Regions from separate parts of the Homo sapiens genome. Here regions 2, 3, 4 and 5 are each linked to region 1. Evidence: fine-mapped expression QTL. A gene starts in region 1. Each other region holds a variant in brackets. All regions are shown on one strand. Distances are between the middles of the regions.

What was found.
Region 2: its variant is fine-mapped to the expression of SLC47A1 in monocytes after LPS (Fairfax 2014, PIP 0.95).
Region 3: its variant is fine-mapped to the expression of SLC47A1 in iPS cells (HipSci, PIP 0.95).
Region 4: its variant is fine-mapped to the expression of SLC47A1 in whole blood (TOPMed, PIP above 0.99).
Region 5: its variant is fine-mapped to the expression of SLC47A1 in whole blood (TOPMed, PIP above 0.99).

What each region holds. Positions count from the first base shown.
Region 1 is chr17:19,531,151-19,536,255 of GRCh38, reverse strand. It overlaps SLC47A1 (solute carrier family 47 member 1), which reads right to left and starts at 2,402. Exons shown (of 17, transcript NM_018242.3): 1 at 2,182-2,402. The coding sequence starts at 2,316.
Region 2 is chr17:19,692,694-19,697,798 of GRCh38, reverse strand. The region is part of intron 13 of SLC47A2 (solute carrier family 47 member 2); the gene reads left to right. Among named protein-coding and RNA genes, the nearest start is that of SLC47A2, 21 kb to the left of the region's middle. The variant G/TG (reference allele first, on the strand shown) is at 2,284.
Region 3 is chr17:19,560,069-19,565,173 of GRCh38, reverse strand. SLC47A1 (solute carrier family 47 member 1) reads right to left here. Exons shown (of 17, transcript NM_018242.3): 11 at 4,878-4,986; 12 at 4,681-4,756. LOC105371578 (a long non-coding RNA gene) reads left to right here. Exons shown (of 3, transcript XR_934310.4): 2 at 545-651; 3 at 4,649-4,879. Among named protein-coding and RNA genes, the nearest start is that of SNORA59B, 5.1 kb to the right of the region's middle. The variant A/T (reference allele first, on the strand shown) is at 3,096.
Region 4 is chr17:19,588,072-19,593,176 of GRCh38, reverse strand. It overlaps the pseudogene SLC47A1P1. Among named protein-coding and RNA genes, the nearest start is that of SNORA59B, 33 kb to the right of the region's middle. The variant C/T (reference allele first, on the strand shown) is at 2,500.
Region 5 is chr17:19,634,387-19,639,491 of GRCh38, reverse strand. No RefSeq gene overlaps it. Among named protein-coding and RNA genes, the nearest start is that of ALDH3A2, 12 kb to the left of the region's middle. The variant C/T (reference allele first, on the strand shown) is at 2,615.

The DNA.
Region 1 (5,105 bases):
TTGCTATACTATTAAAGCAATAACAGGCTGGGCAAGGTGGCTTATGCTTATAATCCCAGCTCTTGGGAGGCCGAGGCAGGAGGATTGCTTTAGCCCAGGAATTCAAGCAATGGGCAACACAGGGAGACCCTATCTCTAACCCAAAATACAAAAATTAGCCAGGCATGGTGGTGTGTGCCTGTAATCTCCGCTACTCCAGAAGTTGAGGCTGCAGTGAGCTGTGATCACACCACTGCACTCCAGCCTGGCCGACAGATCAAGACCCTGTCTCAAAAAATAATAATAATAATAAAACAATAATAGCCTTAGAAAGCCCCTTCTCACAGCAGCTCTGTGAGGGAGTGTTGAACCAAGACATGATTATTATCTCCATTTTACAAATGAATATGCAGAGACCAGAAGAGGTTAGGAGGCTGTTTCAATCTGCACAGCTGCTTCCTGACTTACTTTCGGAGGTCAAAGCAGGGCACGCAGCCCCAGGTCTTGAGATTCCAAATCATGAGGTGTTTTTTTGCCCAGGCTGGAGTGCAATGGCGCGATCTGGGCTCACTGCAACCTCCGCCTCCCGGGTTCAAGCGGTTCTCCTGCCTCAGCCTCCCAAGTAGCTGGAATTACAGGCGCCTGCCACCATGCCCAGCTAATTTTTATTTTTTATTTTTTGTATTTTTAGTATAGACGGGGTTTCACCAGGTTGGCCAGGATGGTCTCAATCTCTTGACCTCGTGATCCGCCTGCCTTGGCCTCCCAAAGTGCTGGGATTACAGACGTGAGCCACCACGCCCAGCCATGAGGTGTTTTTGTTTTGTTTTGTTTTGTTTTTTGAGACCAAGTCTTACTCTGTTGTTCAGGCTGGAGTGCAGTGGCACCATCCTGGCTCACTGTAACCTCCACTTCCCAGGTTCAAGCGATTCTCGTGCCTCAGCCTCTGGAGTAGCTGGCACTACAGGCGCCCGCCACCACGTCTGGCTAATTTTTGTATTTTTAGTAGAGACGGAGTTTCACCATATTGGCCAGGCTGGTCTCGAACTCCTGACCTCAAGTGATCCATCTGCCTCAGCCTCCCAAAGTGCTGGGATTACAGGCGTGAACCACCGCGCCCAGCCCCAAATCATGAGTTCTTTCTGGTCTGTGAGAAAGCATGGCTGATGGATCTTATTCCATGGCTTTGACCTCGGCATTACCCTTGCTGTCCTGCACACCACAGCGGGTGCCACAATATCCCACAAACTACCGAGCCCCCACTCCAGAGGCACAGCGGCCCCCCTCAGCCCGCGCAGGTGCAGAATGTGGGCCTCAAAGTCAAAAGCTTATTCACGCCTTAAGTGCATACCAGTTGCTTCTTGTGCCGCGTCCTACCCTCTCGGTTTGAAAACCACCCAAGCTGGCAGGAGAACGTGGATAGGATTGTGTTTTTGTGGTTTTTAAAACCACATTATTTTTAGGAGACAAGGCAGAAACAGCCCTAACCTAATGATTAAAAAGAAAAGAATCCCACAGATAAGAACACCTCGACCCCACAAAGAACCACATTAAAACCCCTTTTTTCTTTCACATACATAATTACTGGCGGGGAGGGGGTGGTACAGGATGCCTCTGGTTTCCTCGGTAGAGGTTGACTGAATTCTGAAGAAATCATTTCGCAGCTCTGAGTCCACGACAGACCACGCACCCCCTCCTCCGTGCCTCGGGATTATTTAGATCGCAGAGCTCCCGAACTTTTGACCGCTACTTTTCAAAGAAACAAGTTCCCTTGTGTTTTGAAGTTCAGGCAACTTGCGTTTTATTGGCCGGAATCAGCTCCCAGAGAAGGCACCCCCGGATGCAAATGCAGCCTGGACCTGGTAGAGCCCCGTTAGGGGCAAAGGTCCCAGCTCTCCGGTGTCTCCTGGCGCAGGAGGCTGGAGCCGCCGGCCTCTCCGAGCCAACATGCGCCCGGGCGCGTACCAGCCGTTCCCGCAGTGCCCCGCGGGGCCCCCAGTCGGGTGGTGCGGAGCGGAAAGCGGCCGGGACGCAGGCAGAGGAGCTGGGGTGCCCGCCCGGCTCCTGGCACGATGCTCCCCGGAGCCCGCCGGCGGACAGCTCGCTCGGTCCCCAAAGCCCGCCAAAGTCACCCGCGGAGGCAGAAATCACCAGGTCCCCAGCCCGCCGGTACCGGCCTGCCACTGAGGCCACCTTACTCACCGCGGGGCCAGCCAGGACCAAGAGCGCCCGCAGCTCTTCTCGGAAGGCGGACAGCCGCAAGCAGCGCGACCCACGGACCTCAAGGGTGGCCTCCGGGCCTCCGCGCACTGGCGCGGGCTCCTCAGGAGCTTCCATGTGACTCGCGCGCTGCGGCCGGGTAGCGCGGAGGCCGGCAGTGGGTACCGCGGAGGCCGGCAGTGAGTACCGCGCAGGCCGGCAGTGGGTACCGCGCAGTGCAGCCTGCTCTGCAGTCCCCGCCCCGGCCGCCCGCCCAGAGCCCGCCCCGCGCCTGGCGCCCGGGGGCCCGACTGAGCGCGCAGCCAGGCAGCCTGCGACCTTGGGCGCGCCCCTTGCACCTCTCTCTGCACCACTGCGGACGCCTGCGGGTCTTGCAAAGACCAAGGAACTCCTGCACTTGGAAGGCAAAGTTTGAAAAAGCTCTGTAAACTAACGGAACGCGCTCCGGGGGCTGGGTCCTCCACGTCTCGGACGCCAGGACTCACCCCGGCTCTCCACCTCCGCTGGGGGTTTCAGGTTCTGAATGACCTGGCGTGGAAGGACCCAGAGGCCTCGAGCCGTGACTCGGTTAGCACCCCGCGGGGTGTGTGGGGTTGGGCGCATTTGCTGTGCAGATTGAGTTGGGTACACCCTTTGATGCTGGTTAGGGTGTTGCATACTCCTCTCCTCTCATCAGTTGTTCCATTAGAGAACTTAGAATCTACCAGGATAGAGCAACATGCTCCCATTTGCCAAGTAGCACAGTTTGTGCCAGCTGGTCGTGTTGGAAGTTTATCCATCAAGCCTGCTGTGGGAGTACGAGAGGCTGCGGCCCAGAAGGGCAGGAGCAGCGCGCTTTCCTCCCAGAGCCTCAGCTTCCTCATCTGCAAACGTGAAAGAACACTCGTCGCCAGCTGTGAAGACTGGGGTTGCCTGGGCGGAGGACCGGAGTCAGTGCCACCTGCCCTCAGCCTGGCACCAGCCGTTACCTAATAAGTGTCAGTTACCAGGACAAGATTGATTTCTCTAATAGTCAAAATTCCTTCCGTTGTAATGATCCAATGTAAGTAGAGAAAATGGAAAACAAATTTTTTGGCTCACATAATCAGGAAGTTTGGATTCAGGGATTTGAAAACAAGGTCATTAGGCCAGGCGCGGTGGCTCACGCCTGTAATCCCAGCACTTTGGGAGGCCTAGGCGGGCGGATCACAAGGTCAAGAGATCGAGACCATCCTGGCCAACATGGTGAAACACCGTCTGTACCGAAAATTAGCTGTGCATGGTGGCGCGCGCCATAATCCCAGCTACTAGGGAGGCTGAGGCAGGAGAATTGCTTGAACCCGGGAGGCAGAGGTTGCAGTGAGCCGAGATCTCGCCACTGCACTCCAGCCTGGTGGCAGAGGGAGACTCCACTCAAAAAAAAAAAAAAAACAAAACCAGATCATTCTTGTTGTCCCTCTTCCCATCTCTGTCCCTCTCCTCCCTTCTCCTCGCCCCTTGGGATTCTTTCCGTAGTTTCTCTTCCTCCTCTGCCGGCAGCCTTTCTCTTCCTGTGCAAGTGACAGTGGTGGCCTCTGATACCCTCGTTCCTATCTTTCCCGTCTGTTAAACCAGAAAGTAAGGCCCTCCCCTCCTCTCTTCTGGTTCCAAACTAACAAACAAAAAACTGGGAGAAAATCTGGTTGGCCCTGCTTAGGTTTCTTGCCCACCTCTGGAACAATCGCCCTGGGTGGGAAAATAGGGTCTGATGTTTGGCTGGCCCTGGACCATGCACCCAGCTTTGAACCTACAGGGTTAGGGTTAGGTGCCCTGTGACTGGTCTCGTCCCACAAGGACTGTACATATGGAGTAGCGCAGTTTCCCAAAAGAACTGAGAGTGTCAACAGACAAATACCCGAGGATATTCACTAGATCTCTGATCACTGCTGTTTTTTGATAATTTTCTGGAAGTCCTGACTGATGTAATAAGACAGGAAATGGAAATGTAATGTATAATGTTAGGAAAGAAAAGGCAAAGGGATTACTCACAGTAGAAATTGACAGACCGGGCCAGGCACAGTGGCTCATGCCTATAATCCCAACACTTTGGAAGGCCGAGGTGGGAGGATCACTGGAACCCAGGAGTTTTGAGACCAGCCTGGGCAACACAGTGAGACCCCATCTCTTAAAAAAAATCCACACAACCCAAAGAAATAAAATATGAACAAAAGCTAATAGAATTGATAAAGGGGTTTAATAAAGTTGCTACATAGAAGTTCTTCAACAAGTCATATCAGTCCTTTATATTGGTAATAACATATATGAAAATACTAAAAGAAATCTTTCACAATAGCAACAAAAAACAAAAGGTCCTCGTGATACAGAGCATAACTCCTCACTCCTTAAAGGTGGATTGTACACAGTGACTTCCTTCCAAAAAGTAGCACAGGAAAATTAATTTTCAATTAATATATTAGGTTTTAGTCCACTACTGTGTATTCCATTATTTTAAAATTTAATAGAATGATTCTAAAAGCAATTGATAGTGTAAACAGGAAAAGATATAACAAAAACTCTGAAAAAGAAAAGTAAGGAGGAAAGAAGTAGCTCTATTGGCTGGTAAATAGCTTTTAAAACAACGTGTGGTTGGCTGAGCACATTGTACAGGTGAGTAGCCCACACCTGTAGCCCCAGCACTTTGGGAGGCTGAGGTGACAGGATCGACTGAGCCCCGCAGTTTGAGGCTGCAGTGAGCTATGATTGCACTACAGCACTCCAGCCTGGGCAGCAGAGTGAGACCCTATCTCAATAAAAAACAAAAAACAAAACAATTAAAAGAACAAAGAACCCTGTTACTTGGAAAGTGTTAGGATTTTGATTGACATTGCATTATATCTGCAGATTTATTCAGAAAGAATGCACCTCGTTAAAATTCTGTCTTCTATTTC
Region 2 (5,105 bases), 160 kb before region 1:
ACATGGCAAGATACCATCTCTACAAAACATTAAAAAAAAAAAAAAAAGCTGGGCATAGTGGTGCATATCTGTAGTCCCAGCTACTAGGGAGGCTGAGGTGGGAGGATAGCTTGTGCCCAGAAGTTCAAGGCTGCAGTGAGCTATGACTGCATCACTGCACTCTGGGCTGGGTGACAGAGCAAGGCCCTGTCTCAATCTACAAAATAAATAAAACAAATTTTAAAAATATGAAAATATAATATTTGGTAGCTGGTTGTATTTGCTTGCTAAGTGCTTTGGTTTGAATGTGTCCTCCGAAGTTCATATGTTTATGTAACAGTGTTGAGAGATAGAACTTTTTTTGGTTGTCTTTTTGTTTTTTTGAGACAAAGTCTCATGATGTCACCCAGGCTGGTCTTGAACTCCTGGCCTCAAGCAACCCTCCTGCCTCAGTCTCCCAAAGTGTGCCCTGTCGAGGTGGGACCTTTAAGAGAAGGATTAATGTCATTATCTTTTTCCTTTGAGACGGAGTCTTGCTCTGTCTCCCAGGCTGGAGTGTAGTAGCACGATCTCAGCTCACTGCAAGCTCCACCTCCCGGGTTCATGCCATTCTCCTGCCTCAGCCTCCCGAGTAGCTGGGACTACAGGCATGCACCACCTACACCTGGCTAATTTTTTTTATTTTTATTTTTAGTAGAGACAGGGTTTCACCGTGTTAGCCAGGATGGTCTCGAACTCCTGACCTCGTCATCCGCCCGCCTCAGCCTCCCAGAGTGCTGGGATTACAGGCGTGAGCCACCACGCCTGGCCTTAATGTCATTATCTTAAGAGCAGGTTAGTTATTTCAAGAGTCGGTTCCTGACAAAAGGATGAGTCTGGCCCCCTTCCCCTCTTTCTTGTGTGCTCTTTTGCCCTTCAGGCATTGGGATGATACAGCAAGAAGGCCCTCAACAGATGTTGTCACTTGATCTGGGACTTCCCAGCCTCCAGAACCGTGAGCCAAATAAATTTCTGTTCATCATAAATTACTCAGTCTAGGGTATTATGTTATAGCAACACAAAATGGACTAAGACACTAGCACTGCCATAACAAAGTACCAAAAATTGGATGGCTTACATAACAGAAATTTACTGTCTTACAGTTCTGGAGACCAGATATCCTAAATCAAGGTGTCAGCAGGGTCATACTTATACTTCCTTTGAAGGCACTAAAGAAGGATCTGTTCTGGGCCTCTCTTCTAGCTCTGGTAGCCTCAGGGGTTTCTTGGATTGTAGATGGTCATCTTTTCCCTGTCTCTTCAAGTCTTCCTTCCATGTCTGTCTCTGTCCAAATTCTCTCTATTTTTTTTTTTTTTTTTTGAGATGGAGTCTTGCTATGTTGCCAGGCTGGAGTGCAGTACTGCAATCTGGCCTTACTGCAACCTCCACCTCCTGGGTTCAAGCAATTCTCCTGCCTCAGCCTCCCAAGTAGCTGGGACTACAGGTGCGCACCACTCTGCCTGGCTAATTTTTTTTTTTTTTTTTGTATTTTAGTAGAAATGGGGTTTCACCATGTTGGCCAGGATGGTCTTGATCTCCTGATCTCATGATCTGCCCACCTCGGCCTCCCAAAGTGCTGGGATTACAGGTGTGAGCCACCGCACCAGGCCCAAATTCCCTCTTTTAATAAGGACACCAGTCATATTGGATTAGGGCCTACCTTAATGACTCCATCTTAACTTGATCATCAGCAAAGGCCTTATTTCCAAATAAGGTAACATTCACAGGTACTGAGAGTTAGAATTTCAACATCTTTTGGCCAGACACAGTGGCTCACACCTGTAATCGCAGCACTTAGGGAGGCTGAGGTGGCAGATCACCTGAGGTCAGGAGTTCAAGACCAGCCTGGCCAAAATGGTGAAACCCCCATCTCTACTAATAATACAAAAATTAGCTGGGCGTGATGGCACACACCTGTAATCCCAGCTACTCAGGAGGCTGAGGCAGGAAAATTGCTTGAACCTGGGAGGTGGAAGTTGTAGTGAGCCAAGGTTGTGCCATTACACACCAGCCTAGATGACAAGAGCGAAACTCCACCTTAAAAAAAAAAAAAGGAATTTCAGTATCTTTTGTGGGAGACACAATTCAACCCATAACATTTATTATTAGTTATAAGAGTTCTTTATATATTCTGGATACAAGTCCTTTATCAAGCTTTATGATTTGCAAACCCAGGCTGTGGCTTATCTTTTTAAATTAAATTTTATTTTTTAAATTCACAGATAAATATATTTATGGTATACATTTTTTCTTTTTTTTTTTTTT[G/TG]CTGTTTTTTTTTTTTGTTCTTTGTTTTTTTTTTAAGACAGGTCTCACTCTGTTGCCCAGGCTGGAGTGCAGTTGGCACCATCATAGCTCACTACAGAACTCCTGGGCTCAGACCATTCTCCCACCTCAGCCTCCCAAAGTGCTGGGATTACAGGCATGAGCCAATGCACCCAGCCACTATGTTTGTATATATGTAAACATTTCACTATGTTTAGACATTGTGAAATGGCTAAATCAAGCTAATTAACATATGCATTACCTTACATAATTCTAATTTTCTTGTGGTGAGAACATTTAAAATATACTATTACCAATTTTCAAGTATACAATAGTTAACATGTTGTACAGTAGGTCTCTTAAACTTTTTCTTCCTGTCTAACTGAATCATTTTCTTAATGGTATCTTTTGAGTTGCAAAAGTTTTCACTTTCAATGTAGTCCAATTTCTTAATTTCTTTTATGGCTCATGCTTTTGCTATTTTATATATAAGAACTCTGCCTAACCCAAGGTCACAAAGATTTTCTCCTCTGTTTTCTTTAAAAAGTTTTAATGTTAAGTCTTTCTTACATTTAGGTTTATGATCCTTTTTTTTTTTTTTTTGAGATGGAGTCTTGCTCTTTTACCCGGGCTGGAGTGCAGTGGCACAATCTGGGCTCACTGCAACCTCTGCCTCCCGGGTTCAAGCGATTCTTCTGCCTCAGCCTCCTGAGTAGCTGGGACTACAGGTGTGTGCCACCTCGTCCGGCTAATTTTTGTATTTTTAGTAGAGATGGGGTTTCACCATGTTGGCCAGGCTGGTTTCGAATTCCTGACCTCGTGATCCACCCGCCTTGGCCTCCCAAAGTGCTGGGATTACAGGTGTGAGCCACAGCGCCTGGCCTCTGATCCATTTTTAGTTCATTTTTGTGTATAATATGAGGTAAGGGTTTAAATTCATTTTTTACATATGGATATCCAATTGTCCTGGCACCATTTGTTAGCACATGAAAGACTCATTTCTCCAGTACTAAGTTTCTTGGAAACACAGTTGAAAATCAACTGACCATAAATGTAGTGGTTTACTTCTGAATTCACAATTCCGTTCCATTGATTTATGTCTATGCTATGCCATTGTGACAGTCTTAATTACTGTAGCTTTACAGGGAGTTTTGTAATCAGGTACTATTAATATACCAACTGTTCTTTTCTGTCCCCAAACTCTTTTGACTCTTTTAGGTCCTTTGCATTTTTGTATGTATTTTAGAATCAGCTTATCAATTCCTACTAAAAAGCATGCTGAGATTTTGAAAAGAATTGTGTTGAATCTATAGATCAATTTGGACAGAACTGTCATCTTAACAATATTGAGGCCTCCAATCCATGGGCACAGAATGTCTCTAGTTATTTAGAACTTCTTTATCTCGGCAATGTTTTATAGTCTTCAATGGACAAATCTTATACTTCTTTTGTTAAATTTATCCCAAAGAATTTTATTCTTTGGATGCTACTGTGAATGAAATTGTTTTCTTAATTTCATTTTAGATTGTTCATGTTTATAAAAAATCAATTGATTTTTTGATTATTGATCCTTTATCCTGTGACCTTGTTCTAATAGTTTGTGTGTCTGAGCTCCTTAAGATTTTCTACATGTAGGATCATGTCATCTGTGAATAGACACTTTTACTTCTGCTTTCCAATTTGGGGAGAACCTCCAATACAATGTTGTTTTGTTTTGTTCTGAGACGGAGTCTCGCTCTGTCGCCCAGGCTAGAGAGCAATGGCGCGATCTTGGCTCACTGCAAGCTCCGCCTCCCAAGTTCAAGCGAGTCTCCTGCCTCAGCCTCCCAAGTAGCTGGGACTACAGGCACGCAACTCCGTGCCTGGCTAATTTTTATTTATTTATTATTATTATTATTATTATTATTTTTAGTAGAGACGGGGTTTCACCATTGGCCAGGGTGGTCTCCAACTCCTGACCTAAGGTGATCCACCCTCCTCAGCCTCCCAAAGTGCTGGGTTTACAGGTGTAAGCCACTGTGCCCAGCTCTCCAGTACAATGTTGAATCCAAGTGTAAAGAGCATACATCTGAGCCTTGATTCCACTATTAAGGGGAAAGTATTCGAAGTATTCAGTCTTTCTGTGTTAAATTTTATCTGTAGCATTTCCCTAAATGCCCTTTTTCAAGTTGAGAAAGATCCCTTCTAATTCCTAGTTTGTTGAGATATCTCATAATTGGGTGCTAGATTTTGCGGAATGCTTTTTCTGCTTCTATTGAGATAATCATGTGGTTTTGTTCTTTATTAATATGGTGTTTTGCATTAATTGTTCTTTATTAATATGCTGTTTTGTATTAATTGATTTTCAGGTGTTATACCTTGCATTTCTGGGATAAACCTCTTTTTTTTTGAGACAGAGTCTCACTCCGTCGCCAGGCTGGAGTGCAGTGGCGTAATCTGGGCTTACTGCAATCTCTGCCTCCCGGGTTCAAGCAATTCCCCTGCCTCAGCCTCCCAAGTAGCTGGGATTACAGGCACGCACCACCACACCTGGCTAATTTTTGTACTTTGAGTAGAGATGGGATTTCACCATGTTGGCCAGGATGGTCTTGATCTCCTGACCTCGTGATCCACCTGCCTCGGCCTCCCAAAGTGCTGGGATCAGAAGCATGAGCCACTGCGCCTGGCCCGGATAAACCTCTCTTGATCATGGTGTATATATTTTCTGTATATTACTAAATTTGGTTTGCTAATATTTTGTTAAAAATTCTGAGTCTGTGTTCATGAGGAACATTTGTAATTTTTATTTTTTGTTATCTTGATCTGGCTTTTGTGTAAGGGTAACA
Region 3 (5,105 bases), 29 kb before region 1:
GCATGTGAAGGGAGATGAGAAAAATGCTGCCCTGACCTGGGGAAGCAGGAAATTCACAACACCCTTGGAGTGAGTTTTGTCACTCTAAACTAGAACCTAGAAGACTGTCTCCCAATAAATACTTGTTTAATTACTAAATAAGAAATCCAGCACTGGCCCAGGAGTGGTGGCTCATGCCTGTAATCCCTGCACTTTGGGAGGCCAAGGCAGGCAGATCACCTGAGGTGGTGAGTTCGAGACCAGCCTGACCAACATGGAGAACTCCCATCTCTTCTAAAAATACAAAATTAGCAGGTGTGGTGGTGCATGCCTGTAATCCCAGCTACTCGGGAGGCTGAGGCAGGAGAATCACTTGAAACCAGGAGGCGGAGATTGCGATGAGCCGAGATCGTGCCATTGCACTCCAGCCTGGGCAACAAGAGCGAAACTCCATCTCAAAAAAAAGAAAAGAAAAGAAATCCAGCACTGAACAAGATGATCACTTCCTCCTCACCAAAAAGGACAGAAATATAATTATTTTATTCAAATTTTATTTTTTGAATAGGTAACATGCACATGGTCAAAAAATGGAACAATATGAACAAGATAGTAAGCAAAGTCTTACTGCAATGCCCTTCCAGTTTGCCCCAGTACCAGCCCTGCCTCCTCCAGGTAACAATTCCTAGCACGTTCCATGTTTGTCTAGTGTCTATGAAAATATAAGCAAATACAAATGTATATTCTTAATTTTCCTTTCTATATTCTATCATTTCACATGCAGCATTCTCTATATGATGTTCTGCACCTTGCTTTTTCCACCTGAGATATTATATTCACTTTTTTTTTTAGACAGGGTCTCACTGTCACCCAGGCTGGAGTGGAGTGATGCAATCATGGCTCACTGCAGCCTCAACCTCTCAGGCTCAAGTGATCCTCCCACCTCAGCTTCTTGAGTAGCTAGGACTACAGGTGCACACCACCATGCCCAGCTAAATTTTATTTTTTGTAGAGATGGGGTTTCGCCATGTTTCCCAGGCTGGTCTTGAACTCCTGGGCTCAAGTGATCCTTTTGCCTCAGTCTCCCAAAGTGTTGGGATTACAGGCATGAGCCACCGCGCCTGGCCTATATTCACTTTTATATTTCACCCAAATATATTCTTTTCAATGTGCTGCTAAATTCTGTCTAATAACATTTTTTTTTTGTCTGAGACGGAGTCTCGCTCTGTCGCCCAGGCTGGGGTGCAGTGGCTCAATCTCGGCTCACTGCAAGCTCCGCCTCCCGGGTTCACGCCATTCTCCTGCCTCAGCCTCCCGAGTAGCTGGGACTACAGGTGCGTGCCACCACGCCCGGCTAATTTTTTGTATTTTTTAGTAGAGACAGGGTTTCACCATGTTAGCCAGGATGGTCTCGATCTCCTGACCTCGTGATCTACCCACCTCGGCCTCCCAAAGTGCTGGGATTACAGGCGTGAGCCACCGCGCCCAGCCTATGTCTAATAACATTTTATTTTGGATTTTTAAATTCATATTAATACATAAGAGTGATCTGTGATTTTCTTTCTTTTTTATGTGCAAACTTTGTCAGATTTTGGCACCAATGTTATATTTGCTTCATAAACAGAATGCAAAGTTTTCCTTTTCCTGTGCTCTGAAATTTTCTGTTTTATCTATGTTTGCAATTCCCCATGTTTTGAAGATTTTATAAAATTATCCTTTGGAACCTTCTGGGATTGTGCTTTTTGACATTTTAAAATAGCTTTCTCGGCCGGGCGTGGTGGCTTATGGCTGTAATCCCAGCACTTTGGGAGGCCGAGGCGGGCGGATCACAAGGTCAGGAGATCGAGACCATCCTGGCTAACACGGTGAAACCCCATCTCTACCAAAAATACAAAAAATTAGCCGAGCGTGGTGGCGGGCGCCTGTAGTCCCAGCTACTTGGGAGGCTGAGGCAGGAGAATGGCGTGAACCCGGGAGGCAGAGCTTGCAGTGAGCTGAGATCATGCCACTGCACTCCAGCCTGGGCGACAGAGGGAGGCTCCGTCAAAAAAAAAAAAAAAAAAAAAAAAGCTTTCTCTTATTTCTTACAGGAAATCAGTTATTTAGACCTTCTATCTTTTCTAGGGTACATACTGATCAATTATTTCCCTAGAAAATTATCTGTTTATTCCACATTTTTAGATTTCCTTGGAAAAAGTTGTGCAAAGTAGTCTCTTAGGATTTTTAAAAATGATTGTGTTTAGTAGTAACGTCCCCCTTTATTTGTTAGAGGTGCCGTTTCCCGCCCCCTGTGATTAAGTTAGGTAGAGGTTCATCTCTTTCACCGATTCTACCAGGTTGGGTTGATCCTGGCCACCTTACAAGTAATTTGATTGTTGAGTTTCTGATGTTTCCTCATCTCGTCAGTTCTATAGTTTGTGGGCCTCTTGTTTTTCATTCTTTTCCTGGGCTGTATGGTTTCCCAAGTGGACAGATTCAGAGTCCAGCTTCTACTATATTCCTTCTGAAACCATCCATTTATCCTGGTCCTCATAAAGTTCATCCTGATTCCCTTTGTGAGAAAAGCCAACTATTTGCCATCGCCTTCCCCACTCATTCTGAGTGAGGGAGTTATAAACTTTTTTTTTTTTTTTGAGACAGAGTCTCACTCTGTTGCCCAGGCTGGAGTGCAGTGGCACAATCTCAGCTCACTGCACCCTCCGTCTCCCAGGTTCAAGTGATTCTCCTGCCTCAGCCTCCTGAGTAGCTGGGATTGCAGGCGTGCCTCACCACGCCTAGCTAATTTTTTTTGTATTTTTAGTAGAGACAGGGTTTCCCCATGTCGACCAGCTGGTCTTGAACTCCTAAACTCAGGCAATCCATCTGCCTCAGCCTCCCAAAGTGTTGGGATTACAGGAGTGAGCCACCGTGCCTGGCCTAAACATCTTATTTCCCCATAACAAAATAGCTGAAGCTGAAAAATGAAAACCTACGATCTGAAGTCAAAAGTCAAATGTGTGAAGAATAAACCATGAAATTAGTTCTGTCCGCTCCACCAGCTTTCTGAATCCAGGAAGGCAAAGTCCATTTGCATTTTGTAACTGCTGACAAAGGTGTCCAAATAAGAAGTACCCCCACGA[A/T]GTTTCTATATAGTCCGAATGTACACACTAGCATCGCTGATGAAGGAAACAAATTCTGCAGAGCAGAGGGGACTTATCCAAGAATTCTTCAGTAATCAATCTGAGAATATGACTTTTGAGACAGCTCACTGGTGAGATTTTAACTTCAATTCAGTTTGACAAACATATTATGCAACTACTACAAACCGGGCACTTTGGCCGATACTAAGAAACCAAGAGGATTCTTATCACTGGAAACAAAATAATTAACTGAAAATGTAATTAATCGTACTAAAAAGGGGTTTCCACCTTTAAAATACATGACCAGCAGAAGCATAAAATCATTACCAATGCCCATTAAGTTGGCACTGTAGATTATACATCAGTTCCTACATCTAATATGTTCTTCCCAAGTAACATCAGTGGAGCCTCTGATCTTTTTTTTTTTTTTTTTTTTGAGACAGAGTCTTGCCCTGTCGCCCAGGCTGGAGTGCAGTGGCGGGATCTCAGCTCACTGCAAGCTCCACCTCCCGGGTTCACGCCATTCTCCTACCTCAGCCTCCCAAGTAGCTGGGACTACAGGCGCCCGCCACCACGCCCAGCTAATTTTTTCTATTTTTAGTAGAGACGGGGTTTCACCGTGTTAGCCAGGATGGTCTTGATCTCCTGACCTTGTGATCCACCCGCCTCAACCTCCCAAAGTGCTGGGATTACAGGTGTGAGCCACCGCGCCCGGCCGAGCCTCTGATCTTGCAAATGAGTCAGACATCCCTGCTGCAACAACCATAGGTGGCCTCTATGATAGCATCTATCCAATTTAACCATTTCTTTTTTAAATTTTGAGATGGAGTCTCATTCTTGTCACCCAGGCTGGAGTGCAGTGGCACGATCTTGGCTCACTGGCACCTCTGCCTCCTGGGTTCAAGTGATTCTCCCACCTCAGCCTCCTGAGTAGCTGGGATTACAGGCGTGTGCCACCATGACCAGCTAATTTTTGTATTTTTAGTGGAGATGGGGGTTTCACCATGTTGGCCAGGCTGGTCTCGAACTCCTGACCTCAGGTGATCTGCCAGCCTTGACATACCAAAGTGCTAGGATTACCAGCGTGAGCCACTGTGCCCGGCCTCTTTTTAAAAAAAATTCCTAGTTTTAAAAAACTTTTTCTGCTGGCATCTTGCTCTTGGAGGAACCATTTCTTTCTTTCTTTTTTTTTTTTTTTTTAAGACGGAGTCTTGCTCTGTTGCCCAGGCTGGAGTGCAGTGGCACAATCTCGGCTCACTGCAACCTCTGCCTCCTGGGCTCAAGAGATTCTCCAGCTTCAGCCTCCCAAGTAGCTGGGATTACAGGTGTCTGCCACCACACCCAGCTAATTTTTGTATTTTTAGTAGAGATAGGGTTTCACCATGTTGGTCAGGCTGGCCTTGAACTCCTGACCTCAGGTGATCCCAAAGTGCTGGGATTACAGGTGTGAGTGAGATGTTTTCTTTTTACTGATATGATTTCAAACAGCAATGTTTCTGAACAGCCTGATTTTAGAGAACAAATTTTCTCAATGAACCATTTCTTTATCACAGATTTCACATTTCAAGAAAATCCTAGCACTCACCGGTCGGTAGTAAAAATGTACCCCACGTGATCCTTACAGCTTAACAGCAGGACACTGAAGGCTACAGCAAAGAGCACTGAAGGTAAAAACGGCAGAAGAAACAACACAGTGAACAAGAAGATCCACAGGAAGTGGAGGAGCCTGGGTTTTGCATGCAGAGACTGCACCAAGAGCCTCGGGTAAAGGGGTCTCAGCACCTGTAATCAGCAGGGAAACGGTAGAGGACTTCCGTGCCTGCTCCATGTCTCCAGCACCCAGAGCGTTTCCTACCCGGACACTGGCAGCCACACTGAAGCCTGCAGGGACCTAAAATAAAAAGGAAACCTGCAACAATGAGTGAGAAACTGCAGAGCGAGAACACGTGCAGAGAAGCAGCCTCATGCCTCACACCTGGTGGGAAAACTTGGTCCTAAAAGTTTTGAAAA
Region 4 (5,105 bases), 57 kb before region 1:
AAATACAAAAAATTAGCCAGGCGTGGTAGCAGGCACCTGTGATCCCAGCTACTCGGGAGGCTAAGGCAGGAGAATCGCTTGAATCTGGGAGGCGGAGGTTGCAGTAAACCGAGATTGCGCCACTGCACTCCAGCCTGGGCAACAGAGCGAGACTCCATTTCAAAACAATAACAACAACAACAACAACCAAAATTCCTATACCCAACAACAAAAAAAGAAGTAACCTGATTTAAGAAAAGGGAGGGCAACAGACTTGAAGAGACATTTCTCCAAAGATGATATATAAATGGTCAACAAATATATGAAAAGATGCTCAACATCTTTGTATTGGAAAATAACCATGGAGTGTCTTCCATAGGTCATATTTTATCACAACAAATAGAACCATGCCCCGCTCTGGCATACAGAGCCAGGGACTCTGTCTTCCTGTCTATTTTTCCATTCCACTCCCCTACCCAATCCTCCATTTTACCCTTTGTTAATCCATTCCTAAATTTTCTTCTCCTTTTCCCCGCTATCCCCAAGCTTCCCTGTGTACATCTGTTGGGGAAACCTCTAAGAGACGCTTTCTGAGGTCCACCTCCCAGGAGAACCTGGGTGGCCCAGGCCTCCTGTTTCTGGACATGGGTCAACCAACTGGTGCTCACACCTCCCTGTGGGACTCCAGCTTCCCGGGCCAGTGCCTCGTCCAGCTTTCTGACAGAAGGTGTGTTTCACTGATGTGTTCTTATGTTCCATCTTCAGCCAGCCTTTAAAGATTTTCTGGCCACACTGAGGAGCCTGGCTCTGGCTCTAGGCACAGAAGTGTCCCCCAGTGAGGGACCAGTGAATTGATAGTGTTTTCTTTCTGGGACCCTCATCTCCTCAAGCTTCATAAGGATGCAATTGGGCTCAGTTTCTTACAATTCCAAGATGCTAGGAGAATCCCTAAGGTGTCTGCCCTACTCTGTCTTTGCTGGGGTGGCCCCTTTCAGCCTTCACAGACCACAGCAACTCCCTTCTCTAGGCGAATTCCACCTCAACACACAATCAGCTTACACATCGCTTCTTCCCAGGCACCATCCCTATCTCTCCACCCACTAACCCACTGACCTTCCTTCCAACAGCCTGAGCCAGCTGCTTCTCCTGTGAGGTCCTGTGGCACCCAGTTCTCATCTGGCACACAGACCACCTGAACACCCAACTCTATTGCCTGTCCACCTGTCCATATTCCCTCTACCAGACGATTTCACTCTCGCTATCCCCAGTCCCAGGGACAGGAGACAGCAGACAGCAGACATTCAGTATGTGTTGAATTCAGGGGTCGTGACTTACACCACTCTGAAGTCCAGGGCATACAGCAAGAGGGCATTCATGCCCACGTTGATGACATTAGCTGCAATCCTGGTAATAACTTGAGGCATGCTGATGCCCTAAAACCCCCAAACAAATAGGAAAACATTCACATTTTCGAAAGCTAATTAGCTAGCCTATCAAGTGAACACTCACAGTTAAACAGGGAACAGTTTAAATGATGGCAAAGTTACTCAGGACTGGAATGGTCAGGAGCTGAGATGACCAGATTAGTCTCCTCCGTTGGTGCATTATCTGCCTATCCCAACCAGAAGCTTGCAACTGCTTCTGAATAACCTGGTAGGTCATGGTTTCCAGAAGAGCAGCAGAGAGAAAAAACCTCCTGAAGGGCAAATGGGCCCTGGCATGAAGTGAAGGAGAGGCAGCTTGGAAGATATCTGTGCCAAGTTGCTAAAGTTCTTGCATACAAGACACCCAGCAATGCCTGCTTCATAGCAGGTGTGCAGAACATGTTCACCCTATTGTTGTAGGCGCCAGTCACTCATTTCTTTTGTTTATCCTGTCTATTCAAACATTTTCTTTCAGTAAAACCTCTCTTTCATTCCTGCATTGAAACAGAGAGCTGACTGTTACCAAAGCTGGGTAAGGCAAGAGGGCTGCGGCCTCAGATGGGCGAGAAGGGACCCGGGGAGGCAGAGCTCTGCTTCTCTCCACTGTCCACCCAAATCTTGCCCTCAGACTCCTTCGCTGCTCCCTAGTGGCTGTAGGGACCCCAGGCCCTCCTCTCTAAAGCAGAAGCACAGGAGCCAGGCCCCAGGCCAGATGCAAAGCTGGCACCAGCCCCAAGAGAGGGGAGGGGTCGGGGCAGGGGTCGAAGCAGGTGGTGGTGATTGAAAGGGGAATGGGATGGATTGATACAGCCGTCTCTCTTGGGCTAGACAAAATTCACCTACAAGGCCTCAATCTCTCAGGCAAAGAACTCTAAGGTAGAATTACAGGGGGAAAAATGTGAATTACTGTTATAGAACATTCCCTACGAATATTTACTAGACATTTCCAGGATTATGGAGTAAAAATTGTAAAAAGAATCTATACCTGACTTTGTAAATATCTTGTCTGCAGCTGGAACAAGAATGCTGCCTGTAAGTTTAAACAGAAAAACAAACACTTCTCATTAATATAAATTCCAACGGTTTAGTTTAGTTC[C/T]GGTTTTTAATCTTAAATAAGACACTTCCCCTTGATGTATGATCTCAGAGAACCTCACTCACATGAGACAATGCTAGGGCACTATTTGGAATTTTCCAGAGTGGATAAAAGATGTACTCCCTGAAGAATTGACACAGGCCGATTCCAACTGGCTGAGGCAGAAGCCACCGTCTTGACATTTCGAACGGCTCCGAGGGTGCCCGAATGCAGCACTCCCCAAATCCTAGATGATCCAGAAACATTCTGGTTGATTTGCAATCAAAAATAACCATAGAACAAGGAATCAGGAAGGAAATGTCTTCCCCTCATCAATCTTTGTCTTTTTTTTTTTTTTTTTGAGACAGAGTCTTGCTCAGTCACCCAGGCTGTAGTGCAGTGGCACGATCTGGGCTCACTGCACGCTTCGCCTTCCGGGTTCACGCCATTCTCCTGCCTCAGCCTCCCGAGTAGCTGGGACTACAGGTGCCCGCCACCACGCCCGGCTAATTTTTTGTATTATTAGTAGAGACGGGGTTTCACCATGTTAGCCAGGATGGTCTCGATCTCCTGACCTCGCGATCCACCTGCCTCAGCATCCCAAAGTGCTGGGATTACAGGCATGAGCCACCGTGCCCGGCCCAATCTTTGTCTTTAATTTAAGCTACTGTACACCAGAGTGGTACATGTCCTGAGAGTCAGCAAGGGAGGGACGACAGGGCCAAGAAATACATGTCGGGCTTTTGGCATGAACTGCACCAAGATGGAGAAACAAGAGCCGGGGGAAGGGGCATGTGCAGGGCGACACATGTGAGCTGCTTCATGTAGTGAGACACAACAGCCTTGAAACTTACAGGAAGGGCAGGAATGAAAATCAGCACATAAATTTGGGCTATCCTGAAACAAACAAAATAGTCTTCAGTTAATATTAAAACAGTTGCTGGTCATATTGTCTTCAAATTGAACCCACAGAGTATTTTCTAAAAATTAAAATTAAAAATTATTTACTTTTTAGAGACAGGGTCTTGCTCTGATGCCCAGACTGGAGTAGAATGGCACCATCATAGCTCGCTGTAACCTCAAACTCCTGGGCTCAAGCAATCCTCCTGCCTCAGCCTCCCAAAGTGCTGGGATTACTATAGACGTGAGCCACCACACCCGGCCTAAAAATGAGAGAAACTTAATAACAACTTTTAAGTGTTTTTCTTCAACCTACACAAACATGACACTAAGTCTACTAAATGTCTGCTATCTAAGGGGCAGTCTGACCACTTTCCATTTTTCAGCTCATTCTTAGCATGAAAACTAAAACTTGGGCAAAATTCAGAAACCATTGGAAAGTGTCAGGGTCACCTAACAGTGAGCGAGACAGTCTTCTAGAAAGGACCACGCACCCCAAGGACAATACCAGAGAATACACTGGAATTATAGGTTAAAGAAAAAACCCAACACTAAAGTCATACGTGAAGGCGATTACACTGCTATTCTACTTCAGGGGAAAAATATTTTCTGCATTTGCCAGACAGCAAAATGGAGGGACTCGGTGAACGGGAGACAGGCCAGGCACACAACACCCTGGTCCTGTATCTTGTCACCCTGAGTCAGGTGGTCCCTGCAGCCCCCAGACCCTGTGGCCCACAGTCACAGCTTTCATTTTGTTGTTGTTGTTGTTGTTGTTGTTGTAGTTGTTGTTTGAGACGGAGTTTTGCTCTTGTCACCCAGGCTGGAGTGCAATGGCACGATCTTGGCTCACTGCAACCTCCGCCTCCCAAGTTCAAGTGACTCTCCTGCCTCAGCCTCCCAAGTAGCTGGGATTACAGGCACCTACCACCACGCCTGGCTAACTTTTTTGTATTTTTAGTAGAGACGGGGTTTCACCATGTTGGCCAGGCTGGTCTCGAACTCCTGATCTCAGATGATCCACCTGCCTCGGCCTCCCAAAGTGCTGGGATTACAGACGTGAGCCACTGTGCCTGGCCAGCTTTCATTTTTGAAAGGGATCAAGACCATGTAATTGGCCGAAAATGTCCACACAGGTACAATGACCAGATAGCCACTTACTCTTAACCTAGGATTGGGAAACAGGGGACCTCACCTGGAGACTTCGGGTCTTGTTTTAAGAGCAGGAGGATGCGCTCGGTGTTGACCAAGTCGGCCCAGCAGGGAAAGCAGCACAGCATAAGGATGAGGACCCCTCTCTGAAGTATGATCCCCACGCGCTTGAGGTTCTTGACTCCAAAGGACTTGAGAAAACAAATGCACTGCTAACAGCATATGCCAGGCAGGCCGAGGCTGGGGGCCTGCGCCACAAGCAACCCCTCCCAGGGGCGCCTGCCCGGCGCCCAGGCAGTCCGGTTTCCCATCATCTGCTCCCGCCCTCCCCACCAACAGCTGACAGCATTGGGGGAGCTTCTGAGCCAGGGACAACCACAGAGGCCCCTGTGGCATTTTACACATGTCCTGGGACAATGTGTCCCTGCTCCCAGGAGCTGGGACTGTTAACATGGAGGGTAGAGGCAGCAGAAACTGAAGCTTAAAAGAGAGTTTTCCACATGGGGGAGACAGATGCTGCAGGAGAATGTGTGCCATTGTAGAAGGTGAAGTTGTGGGGGACTCTGAGGGCCAGGGAT
Region 5 (5,105 bases), 100 kb before region 1:
GCCCTAGCACAATGTTTTTAAGGTTCATCCATGCTATAGCATATATCAGAGTTTCATTTCTTTTTAAGATTGATTAATATTCCATTGTAAGTATACCACATTTTGTTTATCCATTTACAAAATGGACATTTGGGTTGATTCTACCTTTTGGCTATTGTGAGTAATGCTGCTGTGAACACTGGTGTACAAATATCTGTTTGAGTCCCTGCAGCATATCATAATTCTATATTTGTTAAAGATCTCACATACTATTTTCTATAGTGGTTGCACCATTTTATGTTCCCATCAGCAATGTACAATAGTTCCAATTTCTCCACATTCTCACCAAAACTTGCTTTCTGTTTTCTTTCTGTAATGACCCCTATAATAGGTATAAAGTAATATCTCATTGTGGTTTGGATTTGCATTTCCCTAATGACTAGTGATGCAGAGAGAATATTTTCATGCCCTGGTTAGCTATGTATCTTCTCTGGAGAAATGTCTGTTCAAGTCCTATGCCTAGTTTTTTTGTTTTTTGTTTTTGAGACAGAGTCTCGCTCTGTCACCCAGGCTGGAGTGCAGTGGCGTGATCTTGGCTCACTGCAACCTCCGCCTCCCAGGTTTAAGTGATTCTCCTGCCTCAGCCTCCTGAGTAGCTGAGATTACAGGTGGCTGCCACCATGCCCAGCTAATTTTTGTGTTTTTAGTAGAGATGGGGTTTCACCATGTTGGCCAGGCTGGTCTTGAACTCCTGACCTCAAGTGATCCACCTGCCTCGGCCTCCCAAAGTACTGGGATTACAGGTGTGAGCCACCATCCCCAGCCATATGCCTAGTTTTGAATTAGGCTGTTTGTATATTTTGTTCTTGTGAGTTGTTAAGAATTTATGTCCGAACATAAATCCCTTATCAGATATATACTATGCAAATACCTTTTCCCATTCAGAAGGTTACCTGTTTATATTATTAATAGTGTCCTTTTATGCACAAAAGTTTCTAATTTTTATGAAGTCCTGTTTATCTATTTTGTTGTTGTTGCTTGTGCATATCCAAGTAATCGCTGCCAAATCCAGATTTCCCCTTATGTTTTCTTCTGGCAGGCTTAGTGTTTGGTCTTATGTTTAGGTCTTTGATCACTTTTTTTTTTTTTTTTTGAGATAGGGTCTCACTCAGTCACCCTGGAGTACAGTGGTGCAATCAGAACTCACTGCAGCCTTCACCTCCCAGGCTCAGGTGATCCTCCCACCTCAGCCTCCTGAGTAGCTGGGACTACAGGCACACATCACCACACCTTTTGTGTGTGTGTGTGTGTGTGTGTGTGTGTGTGTGTGTGTGTGTGTGTGTATTTTTTGTAGAGACAGGGTTTTGCCATATTGCTCAGGCTGGTCTTGAACTCCTGGGCTCAAGCAATCAGCCCATCTTGACCTTCCGAAGTGCTGGGATTATAGGTGTGAGTCACTGTACCCAGACTGACCACTTTTGAGCTAATATTTATATATCGTAAATAGGGGATCAACTTCATTCTTTTCTATGTGGATATCCAGTTTTCCCAGCACAATTTGATGAAAAGACTTTCCTTTTCCCATTGAATGGTATTGGCACCCTTGTTTAAGTCATTTGACCATATATGCAAGGGTTCATTTCTGCATTCCCAATTCTGTCCATAGGCATGTCTTTATGCCAATACCACACTGTGATTATGTAGCTTTGTAGTTTGTTTTGGAATCAAGCAATCTGAGTCCTTTCACTTTGTTCTTCTTTGTCAGACATTTTTGGCTATTTGGGTCCATTGAGATTCCATATGTGTTTTAGGGTGGATTTTTCTATTTCTGCAATATGTCTTAGGGATTTTGATAGAGATTGCATTGAATCTTTAAATCACTTTTGGTAATATTGTTATCTTAACAGTATTAAGTCTTCATATGCATGAGTATGGATTGTCTTTCCGTTTATTTATGTCTTCTTTAATTTCTTTCAATTATGTTTTATAGTTTTTCGTGTACAAGTCTATTGCCTCCATGGTAAATTTATTCCTATGCATTTGATTCTTTTTGATGCTATTAAAAATGTAATTGTTTTCTTAATTTCTTTTTGGGATCATTCATTGCTAGTGTATAGAAATGCAACTCATTTTGTGTGTTGTGATTTGCATCCTGTGACTTCTGAATTTGTTAATTGAGTCTAATGGTTTTGTGGAATGTTAAGGGTTTTATACATATAAGATCATGTTATTTTTGAACACAGGTAATTTTACTCCTTCCTTTCCAATGTAAATGCCTTTTATTCTTTTTGTTGCCTAATTGCACCATCTTAAACTTTCAATAGTATTGTGAATAGAAGTGGGGAAAACAGACATTTTTGTCTTGTTCCTGATCTTAGGGGACAATCTTTTAGTCTTTCACCATTGAGTATGATCTTAGCTGGAGGTTTGTCATATATGGCTTTTATCATTTTGAGGAGCTTTCCTTCTATTCTCACTTTATTAAGTGTTTTTTTTTTTTTCAAAGAAAAGGTGTCATTATTGGTATAGTGAGATTAGTATCTGTATATGTTACCTTTTCTATTTTTTTGTTTTTTGTTTTTTGTTTTTTTGAGACGGAGTCTCACTTTGTTGCCCAGGCTGGAGTACAGTGGCG[C/T]GATCTCAGCTCACTGCAAGCTCCGCCTCCCGAGTTCACGCCATTCTCCTGCCTCAGCCTCCCAAGTAGCTGGGACTACAGGCGCCTGCCACCACGCCTGGCTAATTTTTTGTATTTTTAGTAGAGACGGGGTTTCACCTTGTTAGCCAGGATGGTCTCTATCTCCTGACCTCGTGATCTGCCCACCTCGGCCTCCCAAAGTGCTGGGATTACAGGTGTGAGCCACCACGCCCTGCCCACCTTTTCTCTTTGTTGTCCTTGTTACTTTTTTTCTTCCATTGTGGTTTTAACTGAGCATTTTATGAGATGCTATTTTCTTTCTTCTCTTAGCATATTGATTATATTACTTTTTAAAAACTTTTTCATTAGTTGTCCTGGAGTTTGCAATATGCATTTACAACTAACCTAATTCCACTTTTGAATAACACTATTCTTCTTCATGGGTAATGCAAGTGCCTTAGAATATTCTCAGTTCCTCCCTCTTGACCCTTATAACACTGTTGTCATTCATTTTAGCTATGCACAAGCTGTAATAACCAAATACATTGTTGCTATTATTTTCATATATTTTTTATCAATTAAAAATAAGAAGGATAAAATATTTTACCTTCATTTATTCCTTTTCTAGTACATAATTCCTTTCTTTATGTGTATCTGAGTTTCTGAAGTATTTCAGAAAATAGGCTTGGCATTATTAGTAGTATGTGATCTCTAGTAATCACAATGAGACACCACTTCCCACCCACTAGTATGATATAACTAAAATCAAAAAGAAAATCACAAGTGTTAGCAAGGATGTGGAGAAACTGGAAACCTCATACACTGCTGGTGGCAATGAAGAATGGTGCAGCCACCATGGGAAACATTTTGGCAGTTCCTCAAAAAAAATAGAATTATCCGCCTGTAATCCCAGCACTTTGGGAGGCCGAGGCAGGCGGATCATGAGGTCAGGAGATTGAGACCATCCTGGCTAACATGGTGAAACCCTGTCTCTACTAAAGATACAAAAAATTAGCCAGGCATCGTGGCGGGTGCCTGTAGTCCCAGCTACTCAGGAGGCTGAGGCAGAAGAATGGCGTGAACCCAGGAGGCAGAGCTTGCAGTGAGCCAAGATCGCGCCACTGCACTCCAGCCTGGGCAACAGAGCAAGACTCCATCTCAAAAAAAAAAAAAAGAAAGAAAGAAAAAAAATAGAATTATCATATAACCCAGTAATTCCACTCCTAGGTATAGACTCAAAAGAAGCGAAAACAGGTGTTCAAACAAAAACTTGTACACGAGTATTTACTACAGCATTATTCACAATTGCCAAAACATAGAAACAATCTAAAAGTCCATCAACTGATTAATAAACACCAGGTGGCATATCACACAATAAACTATTCAGCCAGAAAAAGGAATCAAGTTTTGAGAGACATGCTACAACATAGAGGAATCGCGGGCCAGGCATGGTGGCTCATGCCTGTAATCCCAGCACTTTGGGAGGCCGAGGTGGGTGGATCACGAGGCCAGGAGTTCAAGACCAGCCTAACCAACATGGTGAAACCCCGTCTCTACTAAAAATACAAAAATGAGCCGGGCATGGTGGCACGCACCTGTAGTCCCAGCTACTCAGGAGGCTGAGGCAGGAGAATTGCTTGAACCTGGGAAGTGGAGGTTGCAGTGAGCTGAGATCGTGCTACTGCACTCCAGCCTGGGTGACAGAATGAGACTCTGTTTCAAAAAAAAAAATAGAGGAATTGCAAAACCATCATGCATGCCAAGTTCAAAAAGCCAGACTCAAAAGGTCACATGTTCTATGATTCCTTCATTATGAAACATCCAAAATAGGTAAATCCACAGGCACAGACAGCAGATTAGTGGTTGCCAGGAACTCAGGGAGAGGGGTATGGGGAGTGAGAGGTTAATAATCTGAGTTTCCTTTTTGGTATGATAAAAATGTTTTGGAAGGGTTAATTTTATGTTATATGAATTTTACTTCAATAAAATCTAGGGCCAGTCACAGTGGCTCACGCCTGTAATCCCAGCACTTTGGGAGACCAAGGCAGGAGGATCTCTTGAGCTCGGAAGTTCAAGACCACCATAGGAAACATAGCGAGATTTCATCTCTACTAAAACTAAAAAAAAAAATTAGCCAGAAGTGGTGGCACACGCCTGTAGTCCCAGCTACATGGGAGGTTGAGGTGGGAGGATCGCTTCAGCCCAGGAGATCAAAGCTACAGTAGCTGTGATCATGCCACTGCTTGAGCCAGGGAGACAGAGCCAGATCCTGTCTCTAAATACATACATACATACATACATACGTACATACATAATCTTCTGGAAAAAAAACTTTTTTTTGGAGTGCAGTGGTGTGATCAGAGCTCACTGTAGCCTCGAACTCCTGGGCTCAAGTGATCTTCCCACCTCAGATCCTGAGTAGCTGGGACTACAGACGTGTGGTTTTGTTGTAGAGATGGGGTTTTGCCATGTTACCAAGGTTGGTCTTGAA